Linked DNA regions of Homo sapiens. The protein of the gene in region 3 purifies or fractionates together with the protein of the main gene of each other region. This does not show direct contact. Each region holds a gene or a part of one and is shown on either strand. Other genes may lie near its edges. The genes, in order: NDFIP2, FGFR2 and EDAR.

What was found.
Region 1: the proteins of EDAR (region 3) and NDFIP2 purify together in Homo sapiens (affinity purification with mass spectrometry; one large-scale study listed by BioGRID and IntAct). This does not show direct contact.
Region 2: the proteins of EDAR (region 3) and FGFR2 purify together in Homo sapiens (affinity purification with mass spectrometry; one large-scale study listed by BioGRID and IntAct). This does not show direct contact.

The regions. Positions count from the first base shown.
Region 1 is NC_000013.11:79,484,075-79,487,731, reverse strand, and holds part of NDFIP2 (NEDD4 family-interacting protein 2), read right to left. Parts: intron 1-3,657. UniProt on the Homo sapiens protein: Activates HECT domain-containing E3 ubiquitin-protein ligases, including ITCH, NEDD4, NEDD4L, SMURF2, WWP1 and WWP2, and consequently modulates the stability of their targets. As a result, may control many cellular processes.
Region 2 is NC_000010.11:121,477,779-121,480,742, forward strand, and holds the end of FGFR2 (fibroblast growth factor receptor 2 isoform 1 precursor), read right to left. Parts: intron 2,336-2,964; coding exon of another isoform or gene 2,273-2,335; exon of another isoform or gene 2,244-2,272; coding exon 2,079-2,243; 3' UTR 1,893-2,078; coding exon of another isoform or gene 1,803-1,892; 3' UTR 554-1,802; downstream 1-553. UniProt on the Homo sapiens protein: Tyrosine-protein kinase that acts as a cell-surface receptor for fibroblast growth factors and plays an essential role in the regulation of cell proliferation, differentiation, migration and apoptosis, and in the regulation of embryonic development.
Region 3 is NC_000002.12:108,912,702-108,916,358, forward strand, and holds part of EDAR (tumor necrosis factor receptor superfamily member EDAR precursor), read right to left. Parts: intron 64-3,657; coding exon 1-63. UniProt on the Homo sapiens protein: Receptor for EDA isoform A1, but not for EDA isoform A2. Mediates the activation of NF-kappa-B and JNK. May promote caspase-independent cell death.

The DNA.
Region 1 (3,657 bases), on a different chromosome or scaffold from region 3:
GGTTAAAATTAAAAAGATTGACAGCAGCAGAATGTTTGCAAGTGTGTGGAGCAACCAAAACTTCATACATTGATGGTGGAAGTGTAAAATGGCATAATGACTTTGGAAAAAAGTCTGGTGGTTTCTTATAAAATTGAAACATACACCTACCCTATTACTCAGTAATTCCACCCATGGAAAATAAAAACATATGTCCACAAAAAGATTTGTACAAGAATATTCATTCCTATCAGCTTTACAGAAAGATTTGTACAAGAATATAACAGCTTTACTCATAACAGCAAAAGAAAACTAAAAACCCAAATATCAACAGCAATGGATAAACTGCAGTGTATTCATTCGATTTATACGATGAAAACTATATGATAAAAAGGGATGAGCTACTGATATACACAAAAACATGGATCAATCTAAAAAACTTCATGCTGAATGAAAGAAGCTTTGTAGACTACATGCTGTATGATTCTAGAATAGGCAAAACTAGGTAATTTGAAGTGAAAAAATCAGAACAGTCACCTGGGGGGTATGAATTGATCTAGTAAGGATAATAAGGGAACTTTCTAGGGTGATGGTAATATTCTGTATCAGGTCATTAAATTTATCTGTAAAGGGCAGTGGTACAAACTGAATGTTTGTGTCTCTCCAAAATGTATATGTTGAAACCCTAATCGCCAGAGTGATGTTATTTGAAGTTAGAGCCTATAGGAGGTAATTAGGTTTAGATGACGTCATGAGGGTGGGGTCCCTATGATGGATGAGTGTCTGTGCTAACATCAGAGAGCGTACTTACACAAATCTAGATGGTATATATAGCCTACTACATACTATGCCGTATGGTCTAGCCTATTGCTCCTAGACTACAAACCTGTACAGCACGTTATTGTATTGAATACTGCAGGCAACTGTAAAACAACAGTATTTATCTAAACACATCTTACAGGACCCCAGTATATAAGGTCCCTCATTGAATGAAAAGACATTATGCAGTACATGAATGTCCTCAACCCTACCACCGTAAATGAATGGGCATGGCTGTGTGCCAATAAAATTTATTTACAAAACCAGGAGTTGGACCACAGTTTGCTGATCTCTGCTCTACATGTCAAAGGTGGTTTGGGTTACATGAGTATCTGAATTTGCCAAAGTTCATCCACTAGGCCATGTAAGATTTGTGCATTTTAATATACATTGATTTTACCTCAAAGAAAAAGAACCATAAACAAATATTAAAATGTAGGCTAATGATAAACATGTGGCTTGCATGCAAGTACACTGATCCCTGCAACTTACTTTGAAAGGATCGAAAAATAGATGGATTGATAAATACACAACAATACAAATAGAATAAACTGTTAACTGTAGAGCCCACAATTTGTATGGAGGTTAACTGTACAATTCTTTCAACTTTTTTAAAAATTTGGAAGTTTTAATATTAAATGTTATTAAATGTTGGGGGCAGATTCAGTAAGGGGCCACTGAAGGTTTTTGAGCAAAAGAACAAAAAATTTATACAGGTTGAGTATCCCTTATTTAAAATGCTTGGGACCAGAAGTGTTTTGGATTTCAGATTTTTTTTGGATTTTGGAATATTGCATATACGTAATGAAATATCTTGGGAATGGGACCCAAAGATGAACGTGACTATATGTGCATGAAACAAAGTTGTGTTGAATACGTACATGTGGTATTTTCCACTTGTGATATCATGTGGTGTTCAAAAAGTTTCAGATTTGGGGGCATTTTAGATTTCGGGTTTTTGGATTAGGAATACTCAACCTATATTCTACAAATATGATTCACACGATGCAAACAATTCCTGAAGGATGGTCAAATGAGGAAGAAAGTAACAGACAATATTCCATGCCAGGTAATGCATCAATATTTAAGGAGAATGGATTAAGTACAAAAAGAGTTCACTAAGACAAGAAAAGTCAGAAAAAGTCAAGAGAAGTAGAAAGCTTCTTATTAACTGTATCAGGAATAAGGACGGAGTTTCAAAGAACATTCATACTGTCAGTATAACAGAGAAATCAAGCAACATGAGAACTGAAAAGTAGCTATCAGACTATGCAGTTGGGTAACCTTGATTATGTAAAAGAGGTGTGGTAAGAATATAAGCCAGATAAAGTATACTGATAAATTCAAAAGAAACAAACAAGAGACGATCAAAGGAATAAGGCTGGCAAGAAAAGGTGACAACTAGAGAGTAAGGAAAGGTAAGAGCCTGCAACACTTCTTTCCAGTGGAAAATGAAATGAGTATAACTAAAACTCATTATACATTATCTCATCCAGAACATGTACTATTCAGTAAGGCAGTCAGCCATGGGCCTGAATGTCCCTGCACATTCTTGCTGAGTGTGTGTAAAGCTTTCCATTTCCTCATACTGAGCTGTTTCTTCTAATAAGTTACACAGGGAACAAAGATCAGGCAACCACAGTGTGTAACTGCCATCCCAGGAGAAGGTGAACTAGTTTGTTTGTTGTTTGCTAAGATATTTGCTGCTTGCTTTAAAAAAAAAAGAGCTGCACCCTTGGTTCTGAGTTTCTGAGTTCCTCAGCTGTGATGCAAACCCACTGCACGAATCCATATGGACACCCAGCCCCTCTGTGGAATTTGGTAGCTAGGAAAACCTACACAAATATGCTGATGTTCGTGCTGCTTGCTATGTCATGAGTAATGATCAGTCTTTAACCTGGAGGTCACCTCTTTTTTGCCAGAAACCGTGAAACATTAACACACTAACTTATTAGCTTGTAAAAAGGGTACTTATTTATCATGTACCAGTCTTTACATGTTTTACACATGTATTATATTATTTCTCACAATAATCTTTGTCAGGTAGATACTAATATAAGGAAACTGAGGCTTCAAGATGTAAAGTAACTAAGCAAGGTCTCACAAATTGCAAACAGCACAATCTAATATATAAGCCCAGATGGCTTTAAAACCTGTAGGTTTTTTACCCGTTAATAGTCAGGCCTCCTTCAAGCCTCCTTCTCAGCTAATTTATCGAGGGCAACTCTAATTCCCCAGATACAAGAGCAAAGTACTCAGATCTTTGTAGAATGAATACTTCAAATTATGTTCCATAGAAAATTGATATTGTAGAAATGTTAACATAATCTTAAAATTTTAAAAACAAAGAACAAAACAAAACAAAGATTAGGAAGAGCTAGGTTAAAGAAATCCAAATCACTGTCTTTACTGCAGAATTTTTCATGGTTTTAATATGCTAATGTATTATAAATCTTCCAGTTACACTTACTATCATTCTGAAATACAGTTTGGGAAATTACTGCTACAATCAACACTGCCAATTTAACTTGTACACAGAATAAGAAGTCAGCTTGGTACAGGTACAATCTTAGAAGTCAGCTTGGTACAGGTACATAATCCTTTAAAATAGAGAACTTTGGCCGGGCTCTGTGGCTCACACCTGTAATCCCAGCACTTTGAGAGGCCAAGGCGGGCAGATTATTTGAGGTCAGGAGTTCGAGACCAGCCTGGCCAACATGCTGAAACCCCATCTCTACTAAAATACAAAAATTAGCCAGGTGTGGTGCACCACACTTGTAGTCCCAGTGACTCAGGAGGCTGAGGCAGGAAAATCACTTGAACCCAGGAGGCGGATGTTGCAGTGAGCCGAGATCACGC
Region 2 (2,964 bases), on a different chromosome or scaffold from region 3:
AAGAGTCACAGATTCACATTTGTTAACTGACAGGCAAAACTCCATTTCCCTCTTCAGATCGTTGGTGGTATGAAAATAAATAATTATTCGAACATTTGTCCAAGTTTTCTTTTGGAAAATTTGAAGCAAATCCTTCTCTCCATACATCATGAAGAAAACAGCCTAAAAGGTTTTTAAGTCCCCAGGATTCAGATGTTCTGAACGTCTTCCCTACTCAATACCTGTCATCCTTAGGTCACCTTCCAGTTTGCAAAGCTCTCTACCATGTGGCTCTTTGTTTGCTCCTCTGGGGAACTGGTAGGGCTCAGAAAGGAACGATGATTCCATTGAGGTGCCAGTAAGCAACCGAGCCAGGGCTCCAACCAACTGATTCAGATTTTCCACTGGATCAACCTCAACCTGTCACAGGTACTGCTGGTCTCAGTCAACCCCTCTGGCAAGTCACCCCCGTGTGTAGCACATAAGACCCTTGGCAGCCCTGCCCTTCCTGCATTCACAACAGCACTCAGTCAGCACCTCCAAGCACAGGAAACCATTTGGTAAGACACGAGTATTAAAAAAATAAGTTGCGTGACATTTATTTTGTCTTGTTAACATTAATATCTGTAGAAACATTTTTATTGTCAGTATAAAAATTAACAGGTTTTATTAAATACTTTCTCCAATTTTGTAACACATAAGATCAGTGTAATCTGCATTCATCTTGCACGGCTATTGCAAAGTGAGTGGGTGTTTCCAAAGCAAAACACAATACTTTAGTACAGAAGGAACAACGGCGATATTTTGTCTGATGTAGGTATGAGGCTGGATCTTTTGGTGAGGTCCTGCCAGAATTAGATGAAAGCAATCCCTTAAAAAGATGGACGTATCCCCAAAACTATCAGCAGAACAACTCTGTGTTTCAATTTTCTATGATGGGACTTGAAGATCCTAACAGGCGTCTCCAACGCCAAAGAGTCTGGAAGCCATTATCAAAATTCACTGAAGAGAATACAGGCTAATCTGATTAATGTGCAACTCAGAAGCAGAAGGCCAGCTGCCAGAGAGAAGCACATTCTGCTATCATTTCAACTAAGGTCTGTCCTCAAGGAATGGATTAAGGCATCTTTTAAGAGGACGCTGGTACCATTTATCTTGGGAAGTCCAGTTAGACGTTGCGTTGACGTAATGACAGGGTTGCACACCAAAATGAAACACCTTCCTATGAATGAGTTCTTTTAATATGGGGCATTTAGGAGGTCTAAGAACAATCGTCTGACAGCAGCATTTAAACACAAATAAATCAAAACTTCATTTTCCCCAAATTAGTCATATATTGTAAATATTCTCTTTTCAAAGGATCTGATAACTAGTTAAGTCCAAGCAATAGATTAACTAGTCTGCTGTGCTGCCTGCATAGAAATGCCACTTAAATTACAAAAAAAACTATAAATGATTAATTGTTTTGTATATTACCAATTTATTAATAAATTAACGTTATACCATTTTCCCTGAAAGCAAAAGTATTTTTCCACCTCTGCTCGGTGAAAATTAAGAAATTATGTGTAAGAACAGCATTTAGCAAATAGCTATTAAAAAAAGAGAGACCAATTTTCTAGGTGCATTGGGACATCCATTTAAAATCAATACAAAAAATAACTCCTTGTAAATATATAATATATATTTATACATAATTTGAATATATTTACATACATCCAGCACCTATATACTGCATTTGTGCTCTGTAAGTGTGTGCTGACATAAATCTTCTCCAATTATTACAAAATTAACAAGGAAGGCAGAACGCACGTCCACCTTGAGTCCTACTGGTCCACAGCCAGTACGCACGGCAGGTGAGAGGGGTTACATGGTGGCTTGTGGCAGTCCACTGCTCCAGAAACCTTCTTCTCCTCCTGGGGAAGATTACAAGTTTTCAACTGTATAAATCTTTACACATATGCTGATTACTTTTCCAATTATTTACTCCTCTGATCCATATATACAAGTGGAGACAACAAGCTCTGGGAGGCATGGTCTCCCTGCTCAGTGTAGCTAGGTTCCCAGTGCTGTCCTGTTTGGGGACAGGCAGACACAGTCATTCATGTTTTAACACTGCCGTTTATGTGTGGATACTGAGGAAGGCATGGTTCGTAAGGCATGGGGTCTGGAGAAAAAACAGAATCATCTCCTGAAGAACAAGAACTTCTTGTGTCAGGGTAACTAGGTGAATACTGTTCGAGAGGTTGGCTGAGGTCCAAGTATTCCTGAAAGAAGGGAAGAGAGACGTTTTATTTCATCTTGGGTCAGGATAACAAGGTGAATACGGTTCGAGAGGCTGACTGAGGTCCAAGTATTCCTGAAAGAAGGGAAGAGAAGAGTTTTATTTCAAACACAAACTCTTGAGATGTGGGTATTGGACGTGGGACAGGACAGGAGACCCCTAGAAGGTGAACAGAGACCCAGCCCACCTGACTTCCACGAAGACCTCCCTGAGACCACGTCTGATGTACCCCAGGCTGTCCTTAGCTTTTCTCTTGGAATCCATCATAAATCAACTATTGACAGGTAGAGAACAATAAAACCTAGTTGAGCTATAGGTGCTGGGCAGGCAACTCGGCTTCACACGGACCTAAATAACCCGCTGAGTCTACACCACCTCCTCACTAGAGCCCTTGCTTCAAATGCGAGCCCCAGCAAAATGAAAACCGGTAACATGTTGTGGGTCCCCAGACCCCCTTTAAGTAGTTGAGACTATGAATATTTATTTTCTGAATTACATTTTACTATTGTAGTTTCGGGGATAATTGAAGGGGAATACTTCTTCATTCAGTGGGTAATTTAACAGATGTAACTGATTACTCTCAGAAGCTCTCCGAGTTGAAAATGTAAACAGGTTCAAAAAAGGCTTAGACATACTCATGTATGTTAAATCCATAATGCACTGTTAAAGGAAACTTCAGGAAAATATCGGTTAAGTTTCAAAGT
Region 3 (3,657 bases):
ACAGGGTGCTGCTGCCCGAGGTGCCAGGGAAGTTGGCAGAAGCTCCTGAAGTGGCTCCCACACCTGCAAGGAAAATAGAGTCCCTCAAATGATCCAGAGAAGCTCCACCTTCAAAGACGCTGCCACAGAGCTCATGGATCTGGATTCATGATCATGAATGGGCCTGAGGCAGTGATGGCTGAGGGGAGCTAAATATTTGTATTTCTTAGACTGTTTAATGAACCCTAAAGAGTCATCGTTATTGTTCTTTTTTTTTTTTTTTGGTGAGACGGAGTCTTGCTCTGTTGCCCAGGCTACAGTGCAGTGGCGTGATCTCGGCTCACTGCAAGCTCTGCCTCCCTGGTTGACGCCATTCTCCTGTCTCAGCCTCCCAAGTAACTGGGACTACAGGCACCCACCACCACACCTGGCTAATTTTTTTGTATTTTTAGTAGAGACGGGGTTTCACCATGTTAGCCAGGATGGGCTCGATCTCCTGACCTTGTGATCTGCCCGCCTCGGCCTCCCAAAGTGCTGGGATTACAGGCATGAGCCACCGCGCCCGGCTGGTTATTGTTCTTTAAATGAAAACACTCATGTGATAAGTCTGCTAAAACTAAACAGTGTGGGTTGGGGAGTTTTGCAAGCCTCACCAACTCAATTTTCCTATGCGTGGAGACAAAGTATATGAAATCCATAAAAATAAGCAACATAGAGTGTGTACATGAAAGTACTATTAGGGTGATACAATACTTGACTAATTCCTTCAATTACATAGAGTAGGAATGTGTTAATACTTTTTCCAGTCATAAAAGTAATATATGCTCACTATTAAAAATCTGGAAAAGGGGGCCAGGCATGGTGGCTCACGCCTGTAATCCCAGCACTTTGGGATTGTTGTTCAGCATCAGTTTGAAATAATAGCTTCTTGATTTATACATATAAATATTGTTGTGGGAAGGAGGCTGGTGATAAAAGTGTATGCGATAGCTATCTTTACGTAGTATGGGTATGAGTTCTTCTTGTTAGAAGGACAAGAGGTGGCGGATCACGAGGTCAGGAGATCAAGATCATCCTGGCTAACACAGGGAAACCCCGTCTCTACTAAAAATACAAAAAATTAGCCGGGCGTGGTGGCAGGCGCCTGTAGTCCCAGCTACTCGGGAGGCTGAGGCAGGAGAATGGCGTGAACCCAGGAGGCGGAGCTTGCAGTGAGCTGAGATTGCGCCACTGCACTCCAGCCTGGGTGACACAGTGCGATTCCGTCTCAAAAAAAAAAAAAAAAAATCTAGAAAAGGGGCCGGGCGCGGTAGCTCATGCCTATAATCCCAGCACTTTGGGAGGCCAAGGTGGGTGGATCACTTGAGGTCAGGAGTTCAAGACTAGCCTGGCCAACCTGGTGAAACCGCATCTCTACTGAATACAAAAAATTAGCCAGGCATGATGGCGCATGCCTGTAATCCCAGCTACTTAGGAGGCTGAGGTAGGAGAATCGCTTGAACCCGGGAGGTGGAGGTTGCAGTGAGCCGAGATCACACCACTGCACTCTAGCCTGGGCAACAAACGTGAAACTTTGTCTCAAAAAAAAATAAAATAAAAATAAAATAAAAATAAAAATCTGGAAAAATAAGAACACAAGAAAGGAGGAAAAGAACTACCCATGGCCTCCTTGGCTAAGTGGACTTTTGCTGTATTTCTGCCTAGGATTTTTCCTCAGACATGTTTTTACATGGTTGTGACCAAAGAGTTTCAGAGCAAGGTGTGCTTTGCCTTCCCTTAAAGCTATGCTTCCCACAACTCCCCTTCTATGGAAAAAGTGTGACTTAGCGGGGATAAAATGGAAGCTGATTTTGCTCTCAGTCAAATCACTAAGACGCAACCATTCAGCCAAAACAAAAACATTCCACCACAGAAGAGACCACGTCCTGTTCCAGACCTCCTAAAAGAAGATCAACCTTCTTTTGGGCCAGACTTCAGTTTTGCAAATAATAAAGCCAACATGCTTCAAATGCATCTCCCACTCTCTCACTTTTGTCTCTACCAGTTCTGGAGAAATCCGTGAAGTGCACTTGGTCTACAGAAAAGCAGCCCCTGAGTCAAGGACAAGGCCAGCTGCCATCCCCAAATCAAGGTACCTCCCCAGCCTGGCCCAGCCCAGTGGAATGGCCCAGCACTGTGCCTGGTCAGCCCATGCAGCAAGGCTTCCGGGAGAAGCAAGCTTCCTAGTTGGACTGTTTTTCTGTTTTGTTTGAGACAAGGTCTCACTCTGTCACCCAGGCTGGAGTGCAGTGGCACGATCTTGGCTCACTGCAACCTCTGCCTCCTGGGCTCAAGTGATCCTCCCACCTCAGCCTCCTGAGATGCTGGGAGTACAGGTGTGTGCCACCACACCTACTTTTTGTATTTTTTATAGAGAAAAATGCACGTTGGCCAGGCTGGTCTTGAACTCCTGACCTCAAGTGATCCACCTGCCTTGGCCTCCCAAAGTGCTGGGATTACAGGTGTGAGCCTGTAATCCATGCCTGGGCTGGCTGTTTTCTTTAGTAGGAAGTTCTCAGGAGAAACGCACACTCTTGTTCTGTGAGTGGGGGCAGCCCAGGAGCTAGTGACCAGCTGAGCTATCCACTCGTGTCTGCTCTAAATGGAGCAGGGCCACAGGAGAATGGGCTGGATGCTTCTCTGTCCTCACACCTTGTAAAGCAAATTGGAAGCTTGGCCAATGAAACATTGGGCTTGGGAGGGACCAGGGCAGCTATGTCATAGGGTATGTAAGAAACATCACCTGTCCACTGAGGGGCAAATGATGTTTCCTTGTGTTTCTGGATGATGAATGGAGGCTTTTTTCCTCGTGGGCCTCAAACTTATGATAAATCTTTGCTTTCTTAATTTAGCCTCTTACTTGGCCTCAGAACCAGTGTTCTTATTAGGGAAAGAGCTGCCCAGGCACGGTGGCTCATGCCTATAATCCCAGCACTTTGGGAGGCCGAGGCGGGAGGATCACCTAAGAGGAGTTTGAGACCACCCTGGCCAACATGGTGAAACCCCAACTCTACTAAAAGTACAAAAATTAGCTGGGCCTGGTGGCAGGTGCCTGTAATCCCAGCTACTGGGGAGGCTGAGGCAAGAGAATCGCTGGAACCCGGGAGGCGGAGGTTGCAGTGAGTCGAGACCACGCCATTGCACTCCATGCTGGGCAACAAGAGCGAAACTCCATCTCAAAAAAAAAATAAAAAATAAATAAAAATAAAAAAAGAGCTGGTGGAGAAGTGCGTGCCCCTAGCTGAAAGCCACAAGCCCATGTCAAACAACAGAGCGTTCCCCCTCACAGACCTTACTGAAGTTGCTCTGGAAGTCTCCAGTGTGATAAGGAGGCTTCAGATTGTGTGCCCATTTCTGTTTGCTGGGGGGTAGCCTCCCACACTTCATCAGGTGAGTGAGCATAGGGGCATCATGGCATAGTTTCCAGCATGACCTAATTTCCTTTATAAGAGCAAACAAGAGATTGAAAAGAAGCTGATCTATCTGTTCAGTAAGGCGCTCAAGGGAGCTTAAGATACACTGTCAGAGCAAAAGAACAGCCGTGGGCTGTCTGTGAATGTTTGTCATCTTCGCCTCTTCTTGTCCCTTCCTGTCGGGGCTCGCAGGCTGCTTCAGGTGACAGGGTTGGGGATGGGGACA